Homo sapiens: one gene and its partner. The protein of the gene in region 1 purifies or fractionates together with the protein of each later gene. This does not show direct contact. Each region holds a gene or a part of one and is shown on either strand. Other genes may lie near its edges.

Region 1 (5,731 bases):
CTCCATTCCTTCCTGAAGGCTCAAGGGGAGAATCTGTTTTCTTTCCTCTTCCTACTTCTAGATGCACTCTATATTCCTTGGCTTGTGGTCCCCTTCCTCTGTCTTGAAACCAGCAACTGTCTGACCCTTTTGCTGTGGTCACCTTTCTCTCTCTGGCCACTCCGCTAGGACAGGTTCCCGGGTTTTCATGTAAGGTTTCCTGTAATAAGATTGGGACCACTTGTGTAATCCAGGATATTGCCATGTAAAATAACATATTCATAGATTAGGATTAGGGCATGAACATTGTTGTGAGGCCATTATTACTCTTAGCCAGCATCCAGGTAAGAACGGCTAGAATATACCCAGAATATTTTACTATGTCTCACTTCAATCAAGCACTTGAAAATTGTAGGAAAAAACCAGAACGGAGAGGAGGAGGTCTGGAGTTATACCAATCTCAAGGCGTTTAAAGGAAGAGAGTGTTTGGCTTAGAAAAATATAGCTTAGACCTCTATATAGGGGTAGGGAAGGAGTGTGATTGATGAGGCGTGGGTGATGGCTATCTTTAAAATATCAGAAGGTTCTGTCACAGACAGAGGATTGAAACTTGTGCTTCACAATCTCAAAGGACAGAATAGAATAAATATCTGGAAACTCCTAGGATGCAGCTTTTGGCAGAAAATCAGGCAGAGCTATTATGGCTGTTACTGATGTCCTTAAATGCCACAGGCTGGAAATGTCATAGCTTGATGGTGTGGGAAGTCTTATAAAAAATATTTAAGCATTAGATGAGGGATTAGCTCAGATGACCCCTTAACTTAAATCTAATCCTTAATGATTGTGTAACATTCTATATGGCTTAGAATTCTATTCATGTTTTTTTTTGTTTGTTTGTTTTTTGTTTTTTTTGAGAGTTTTGCTCTTGTTGCCCAGGCTGGAGTGCAATGGCACGATCTCGGCTCACTGCAACCTCAACCTCCCGGGTTCAAGCGTTTCTTCTGTCTCAGCCTCCTGAGTAGCTGGGATTACAGGGGCCCGCCACCATGCCCAGCTAATTTTTTGTATTTTTAGTAGACATGGGGTTTCACCATGTTGGCTAGGCTCCTGGTCTCCACCCGCCTCGGCCTCCCAAAGTGCTGGGATTACAGGTGTGAGCCACCGCGCCTGGCCTTATTCATAGCTTTTGAATACCTCTGATTGCATATAGCTACATCCTAACAGGGCCCTTCATCTTTATTGAGAATCTTTTTGTTCTCACAGAATCCATTGTAAGGATCTATCCCATGCCACAAAAAAGAAGGCGTGAAGAAAGCTGGTAGAGTTGAGATGCCCCCTTGGAAGATTAAGTATTCCAGATTATTGTTGAGAATATAAAAACAATAACCAAAGGAACGGTGCAAGATTTTAAATGCACACAAATACTTAGAAAAATACTCTCCTCTGGCATATCAGACAGAAAAACAAAACAAACAAATAAGCTGTAAAGAGTTAAGCCTTGAAGAAAGTGTAGATTCATTGCTATTAGGTGGTCTGTGTGAGTATTAAGTATGATTCATATTTTGAGGAAGTGAGATATTTTAAAATGAAGGAAAAAGAAGTCGATCAGGTTATTTCATCTTAATTCAGGAAATAATACATTTTTGAGACTTTTTTCATCAGTCCACTTTGGGGATGATTATTTGGAATAACTTGTATAAGACTCATGAGGCTGCTGCAGAAAGTGTTGTTTTTATGTCACTAGTGTATGCTGCATAAAAGCTCTTCTTTATACTTTCAACAATTATGTTACCATGAACATTCTTGACCTTTTAAGTATACCTCTGAATGTTTAGATTATAAACGTGAACTGTACTGTGTTATGTTAGACTATTTGACCAAAAACGTATTTTCTACCACAAAAAAAGTCCAAAAGGAATTAAGTTAATTACAACTTCAATTGTGTTCAAGATCGGTCTTTGTGGTTCTTTATATCTGTGATTTATATATCTTCAAAGAGAGTCTTAAGTGTCTTTGGGATTGTAATGGGCATTCTAGACTAAGAGGAGCTTGTTCAGACACAAGATTTGGGGCCAATGCTTTCAATGACTTCATAACCATTCCATCTTCTTTCTACTTCTGTGGATTACCCAACAGCAATAATGATAATCTGAGCCAGTTCCTGATACTTCTCTCTATAGTCAAGAGAAGGTCAGCTATTTTTTGATCCCCATGGGAGAAAGACAGCTCCTCAATCACTATCTTAAAATAGCCAGCAATTCTCAGCTGCTGGGCTGGAGTTCCTCCAGGGGCGAGCAAAGGGAATATGAATCTGCCGGTGGGGCGTGAGCGAGAAGCCACCAAAACATGAGCTAGGACAGCCTTCTCAAGAAGATTCTGCCAACTCAAAAATATTATTCTTTTTTTTTTTTTTTTGCTGTTGTTTCTGAGAAACTAGGTGTCTTACCATTTTAAAATTTCATATTTTATTTAAAAGGAAACCAGTGAATTGAAAATGAGACTAAATATCGCTATCTTCTTTGGAGCTCTCTTTGGTGCTTTGGGGGTGTTACTCTTTTTGGTGGCTTTTGGATCGGATTATTGGCTTCTTGCAACTGAAGTGGGGAGATGTTCAGGTGAAAAGAATGTGAGTCTCTTCTTCAAAATAGTGATGCACATGGTAGTTATGAAGATACCCTTATGTATGCTCTTGAAATCAGAGAATAGTAGTGGAGTGTCTATTTCTTCATGGAAGAGATATGTAGAAAGCTACTGAGCTTCATTATTTGGGATAAAATACATGTCCTTAAAAATTTACTGGCTGTAATGATTTTGATTATATTTCTTGTATTGATGGCAAGTTACTTCATTTTGTTCTGTGCAGATAGAGAACGTCACTTTTCACCATGAAGGGTTCTTCTGGAGGTGTTGGTTTAATGGGATTGTGGAAGAGAATGACTCCAATATTTGGAAGTTCTGGTACAGTAAGTACAATTTAGCTTTATTTTCCCTCTTGTCTGTAAAATAAAAATGAACAGTTTCTTACATAGTATATGTCACTTCTAGCGGACTGGATTGTGAGTTACAAAATCTCAATTAGATGTCTTTAAAAGGTTCATCATGTAGAGATTCCTTTTCAGTAAGTAGACATGGCTATAGGAATAATTATTTTATCTTTTAGCATAAAACAGGAGTCTGAATATTTATGGCAAAACTGAATTATCCATTGTTTCACTGCTCCTGTTTAGAATACACTAACTCTAACAAACAGGACAGGTATTGTCTATAGCATTTTTTCAAGTGTGTGAATACTATGTTGCAAATAAATAAGATTTTTTTGCTATCAGCCCTTGAAATCTCAAATGTAAAAATCCATAAATAGAGATGTATTATTTTATATTCATAACTTCAAAGTTAACAGTATATTTTTTTTAAAAAAATCATGGAACTTAATTACCAGCCATGGCAGATGAAAGCTTATATTATTTGAGCTTTAACCAAGTTTGTTGGCACTATCAAGAAGTGCCTTGCTTTTGATGTTTGTGTTCTCATTGAAACTTTAAAGTTCTTTTTTAAGGTAGCATAACTTTTAAAAACTATAATGCATTTGTTCAACTCTATTCTTTATATTGAATTAATCTTTGAAAATCAATTTATTGAAAATAGCTAGCGCTTATTTCATTGTATTCAACAATGAAAGGGCTGTTTATTAGCCTAAAGCTTATTGAGAATTGAAATTATTAGTCTTCTTATCAAAAATCAAAGTATGGTATTTACATAATAGTCAGGATTATGGAATATTTAATAAAAATAGGAGGTCCCTGAAGACTTAAGCAAGCTGGTGATAAGTTGGCATATATAAGGAACAAAGTAGTGATGAAGCAGCGTTTTGAGGCAAGTACCTGATAGACTATCTTACAGTGGATTTGGGGGCAGGAGAATAAGCATACAACTTGCCAGTGGAAATGGTTTAGACTTTAGTAAAGGGAAGTAAGTCAGACTGTGCAAGAGGAAGATTTTGCCAAAGACTTGGAGAAAGAAAGAATATTTCAATATTTCAGTCCACCTTAAAGTGTACATATAAAAATTTTAAGTTCTCAGACAACATAAAAGTGCCTTCTTGTGATGTTTTCAAATATTAAAAATTTATTTGAATTATTGTATAACTTATCATTTGCATTCTTCCCTAAAATAAAATGGATATAGAAGAATTTTTTTATTAATTTGAACTAATCAAGGTTAAACTTAAGTTTATTAGATTTTTAAAACAATTATTTTTTATTCCCTACTGTGTGCTAGACACTGTTGGGTACTGGAGAGTATGTGAAAAAAGATGAAATGTGGTACCTTAAATCGTAAGGTGATATAAAGGGCATTTGCATTTATTCCATTGAATTATGTCATGTAGCTAGATGTTCTGGATGAATCCACCTTCGTCTCATGTGCATCTTGATATGAGTTTCCTAGAAGGCCTTCCTCCTCACAACAATTCGCTGAATTTGCTGATGGAACCAGTAGTTTTGTTTTGCTTGTGTAACCCTTGTGCTCTGTATTTCTGTTCCATTAAGGATGAGTCATGACTGAGCTTTTCAATAACAAGTGCCATTGTTTTGCTGTTCTTCCTAGCCAATCAGCCACCGTCCAAGAACTGCACACATGCTTACCTGTCTCCGTACCCCTTCATGAGAGGCGAGCACAACTCGACCTCCTATGACTCTGCAGTTAGTAAGTACCCTCTGTCCTCAGCCTACTTCTAAAAGGGTCTTATCTTTCTGAAGGATGCCCAGATCAAAATTGTTGTGAGCAATTAAAAAAATAATTTAAGACCTGTAATTTCAATATTTTTGATATCTGTTAGATTAAAAAATGTTATTTTTAATGTGCCATTTATAATTTTAAAGAACATAACTTTGATCTAAAAGTAAAGTCATTGTAATTTACTAGCTGCCTATAAAAGTATTTTTAAATGTGTTTTCCCATATGAAGATAGTAATATTTATTAAGAAGAACCGCTTCTTAAGGTTTTAACAGACCTAAAACGAGTCCTACAGTTGAGAATATTGTAATATACATCATACTTCTAAAACTTTATGTCATCATTACACATGAGAATATCACAGATAAATATATAATATGTATACAATAAATATATATGATATAAATATGTAATTATGCTACTATATTTATACAAAATGACTGAACTCTGTGTGTGTAATATCCCATAGGAGACAGACAGACAGATATCATTAACTTAAAATCACATTAAGAACATGAAATTTGTAATAACTTGCTAAGGGTTGATACAGACTATCAATGTCATATATAGAACAAAAAAGTGTTTTTCAAAAATAGTAGCTATTATATTTAATGTTCTCAATAAATTAATATTAGTCAGGGTTCTCCAGAAAAAAGAGAAACAATAGAACACATAAATATATATTATATACACACATACATGTATATACATATGCATGTGCACATACACATACACACATAGAGAGTGAGAGAGAGTGATTGTAAGGCCTGGTGAGTCTGAAATCTACAGGGCAATTGGCAGGCTGGAGATTCAGGTCAGAGCTGATGTTGCAATCTCCAGTCTGAAGGCTGGACACTCCAGTAGAATTTTTCTTCTGCAATCTGGAAGCTGACTTTCTTTTTCCTCAGGACACCTGTTTTTTCTCTTTAAATCTTCAACTGATTGGATGAGGCCCGCTCATAGTATGGGGTAGGGGGTAATCTGCTCTACTCAAAGTCAAGGGATTATAAAAGCTAA
Region 2 (4,283 bases), on another chromosome or scaffold:
TGGAGAGCTCTCAGTGCCCATGGATCCACCTACGGACGTAGGCAGATGACCTCCATCTTCACTTCCTCATGGATGCTAACACCAGATGTGCACTCCCCACAAAAACTGGTGTTTCCCAAATGGAACTCATTGTTTCAAACTAGCATAGTGAAAAGCACATGAAATCATCTGGGTTCAAGTTACATCTGAGTGACTCACTGACATCCATATAACCTTGAGCATATTACTTCACATCTCTTTCTGACCCTCTTTGCATCTGTAAAGTGACTAATCAACCATGGAGGGTCGTTTTGAGGATGAAAGGAGGTTTTATGTAAAGCACCCAGCACGTCGGTAGGTGTCTGATGAATGTTAGTTTCCTTCCTATCTTCTGTCTCCTAAGCTAGTCCTTCATTGTTGCCTCACACCTAGGTTTGCTGCTGCTGACTGTAGGTGCTCCTTTTTACTGTTGACTTTGTCTTTCAAATCTGGTTCAAATCAAACTTACACCTCCCTTGCCGAGAATCACGAACTGGCTCCCTGTTTCCTACCTGAAGGAAGTGAGACACTCCCACTAGACTTTCAAAGCCCTCCCTTTTCTTACTCATCCTCCATCCACTATATTCTTACTGTAACCTTATTTTAAAAGATGACACCATTCCACCATGCTCCCACTTCACTGTTCCATAAGCTAGCCACCTGTGTTATCAGCACCACACCAGCCTGGAAGAGCCAGGACCCCAGCGCTGGCTGTCATACGTCACTCCCACAGGCTCTCCTGGTCTAGTGTAGGCACTTAATAAATGCTTGTTGAGTGAAATTTCTCCTCAGATGTTTAGGAACTTGTGCTGAAGAATTTTAGGACAAAATTTCAGAAAATGACCAATTAATACCATGCATATTGTTTTTTCTCCCCTTGTATAAAAATTGTGCTCAGTTTCGAAGACTTGGAAAAGGAGATAAGGGAAAAATATCTACAATTCCACCATTTATAGATGCATTTTATTATCATTTTTAATGATAAAGGCATTTAACCCATTAGATGGTTACTTTGCATTGAGGAGCTAGTATGTGCTAGTGCGGCTATATGTGCACTTTCTTATACATTCTCATTTAATATGAACTTTCAAAAGTAATATGAAATTATATATATTTCAAATTTTTGTACAAAAAATACAGGAATTAGCCAGGCATGGTGGTGCAGGTCTGTAGTCCTAGCTACTTGGGAGGCTGAGGTAGGAGGAGTACTTGAGCCTGGTAGATCAAGGCTGCAGTGAGCTGTGATTGGACCACTGCACTCCAGCCTGGGTGACAGGGTGAGACCCTGTCTCGGGGTGGGGGTGGGATGAAGAAAAGAAAGAAACTGTGAGCTTAGTAGTAATGCCATAACTCTACTTTTGTTGCTTAGATTGGTTTATCTTGGAAGCTAAAGGGCATTGCTCATCCTGAAGATCAGCTGACCATTGACAATCAGCCATGTCATCCAGGCCTCTTGAAAGTCCACCTCCTTACAGGCCTGATGAATTGTAAGTAAATAATTCTTTAGTTATTCTCTTTTAAAAAGTCTATCACATGTAAACAATAAGTATGGTTGAAACTTTAAGTGTTTGCTTTTAAAAATAAAACGATATGTGTACTTGTAAATTTAAATTGTATCAAAGGGTCTGCACTGAAAACTGAATTTCTCTCAACTTTCAGAATGACAGTTTGTCTCTGCTAGGACAACTGCTGTCACCTATTCCTAATGTTTGTTTCAAGAGATTGCCAAGGTTTATATTTGTATGTTCCTTTTTGTTTTGTACAAATGATAATGAAGCTTCCATTTAAATGCCTCATTTAGGTGGCCATTGGGAACATATTGTCAGTTTTTAAAAATAACAGCTTTAGGCCGGGTGCGGTGGCTCACGCCTGTAATCCCAGCACCTTGGGAGGCCGAGGCTGGCGGATCACAAGGTCAAGAGATCGAGACCATCCTGGCCAACATGGTGAACTCCCGTCTCTACTAAAAATACAAAAATTAGCTGGCTGTGGTGGCGCGCACCTCTAATCCCAGCTACTTGCCTGTAATCCCAGCTACTTGGGAGGCTGAGGCAGGAGATTCACTTGAACCCAGGAGGTGGAGGTTGCAGTGAGCCGAGATCACGCCACTGCACTCCAGCCTAGAGACAGAGCGAGACTCCGTCTGAAAAAAAGAAAAAAGGCCAGGCCTGGTGGCTCATGCCTGTAATCCCAGCACTTTGGGAGGCCGAGGCGGGTGGATCACCTGAGGTCGGGAGTTTAAGACCATCCTGACCAACGTGGAGAAACCCCCATCTCTACTGAAAATACAAAATTAGCCGGGCATGGTGATGCATGCCTATAATTGCAGCTATTTGGGAGGCTGAGACAGGAGAATCGCTTGAACCCAGGAGGCGGAGGTTGAGGTGAGCTGAGATGGCGCCATTGCACTCTAGACTGGGTGACAAGAGCAAAACTCCGTCTCAAAAAATAAATAAATAAATAAAAATAACAGCTTTATTGAGATATAATTAACATACTTTACAATTTACCCATTTAGAATGGATAGTTTAATGGTTTTTAGTATATTCACAGAGTTGTAGAACCATCACCACAATTAATTTTAGAACATTTCATTACTCTCCAAAGAAACCTATCCATTGGCAGTCACCTCCCAGTTCCATCAGCCCTAAGCAACTATTGGTCTACTTTCTGTCTCTATAGATTTGTCTATTCTGCATATTTTGTATAAATGGAGAAATCACGTAATATGTGGCCTTTTGTAACTGGCTTCTTTCACTTAGCATAATACTTTCCATACTGTCAGTTTTAAGAGTGATTCCTGCCATGATCTAAAACAAGCAGTGTTGAGGGGTTTTGGGCTCCTTGGTCATGTGAAGACTTATCAGTGAATTTTTGAATTCCAAATTTGCTATCAAACATTGATAGGGATTTCCTCCTCTAAGTAGTTTGCAGCTTTAACCATGATAAGTGTAGTGGAGTGTGATATAGGCAAAAACAAACAGTTTCTCCTGCTGTTCTGTCACAACACATCTGTGACCTCTGATCACCAGAATTTGTGGGGATATTTCCCCACCAGCAACCAAGTAATCAGTTCTACAGTGGACAATAGCTGTGTGTCCTCTAATTATCAGTTCAATTCTGACACTGTCAGAGATAGCATCAGATCACAGGTTCAGGGCTCATTCCCACAAGACTGCCCCCACTTCACGTAGCAGCCACAAGCTCAGGTTGTGGCCTGTGTTTCTGACCCACCTACAGTAAATCAGGATTCCCACAGTTGTCTCCTTGGGTGCAATTAATTTGCTAAAGTGGCTTGCAGAACTCAGGGAAACAGTACTTACCATTACTGGTTTATTATAAAGGGTATTACAAAAGCCAGGTGTGGTGGTGCATGCCTGTTATCCCAGCTACTCAGAAGGCTGAGGCAGGAGGATTGCTTGAGCCCAGGAGTTTGAGGCCAGCCTGGGCAACATAGGGAAACCCTGTCTTTTAAGAATGAATGAATGAATGAACAAACAAATGATATTACAATGGATGCCAACAAACACCAGATGAAGAGGTGGACAGGGCGAGGTATGTGGGAAGCAGCCCTCCCTGGTTGTGCCACCCTCCAGGAACTTGCACATGTTCAGCTGTCCAGAAGTTCTGTGAATTCGGTCCTTTTGGGTTTTTATGGAAGCTTTATGACATAGGCATGATTGACTAAATCATTGGCCATTGGTGAGCAGTTTAAGCTTCAGCCCCTCTTTCCTGTCCAGAGAGGGTTGGGGCTGAAAAGTTCCAACCCTCTAATCCTAGCTCCCATCCTGAAGCTTCCTAGGGCTGCCAGGAACCTATCATCTCATTAGCATATAAGGGATACTTATCACTTTGGAGAGTCCAAAGATTTTAGGAGTTGTATGCCAGAAAATGGAGATGAAGACTAAATACATATTTTACAATATCACGTGAAGGTTGTGTTCCAGTTCTTTAACCTCCTTACTAGTGCCTAAAACATGGTGGGGACACAAGTTGTTTATGACAATACAGTTTTTAAAACATACTAGAGAATATAGTAATTGAGTAATGCACCACTAATCTGACACTTATTTTGTGTTGCTTTTGTAAATAATGGTGAACTGCAACATACATAAAGAAAAGGACACAGAACATATGTAGGAGATCATGAGGAAAGACCAAGCAAACATACATACTCATCACCCAGGTCAAGAAACAGAACACTTCAAAGTCCTTCCCTGTGTCCTCTCCTTTTCTCTGGAGACCACTGTCCTGACGTATGATCA

Evidence for each region.
Region 2: the proteins of TMEM182 (region 1) and OCLN purify together in Homo sapiens (affinity purification with mass spectrometry; one large-scale study listed by BioGRID and IntAct). This does not show direct contact.

The regions. Positions count from the first base shown.
Region 1 is NC_000002.12:102,759,745-102,765,475, forward strand, and holds the start of TMEM182 (transmembrane protein 182 isoform a precursor), read left to right. Parts: upstream 1-2,286; 5' UTR 2,287-2,473; coding exon 2,474-2,605; intron 2,606-2,842; coding exon 2,843-2,942; intron 2,943-4,584; coding exon 4,585-4,683; intron 4,684-5,731. UniProt on the Homo sapiens protein: Negatively regulates myogenesis and skeletal muscle regeneration via its association with ITGB1. Modulates ITGB1 activation by decreasing ITGB1-LAMB1 interaction and inhibiting ITGB1-mediated intracellular signaling during myogenesis.
Region 2 is NC_000005.10:69,502,790-69,507,072, forward strand, and holds part of OCLN (occludin), read left to right. Parts: intron 1-1,387; 5' UTR 1,388-1,455; coding exon 1,456-1,505; intron 1,506-4,283. UniProt on the Homo sapiens protein: May play a role in the formation and regulation of the tight junction (TJ) paracellular permeability barrier.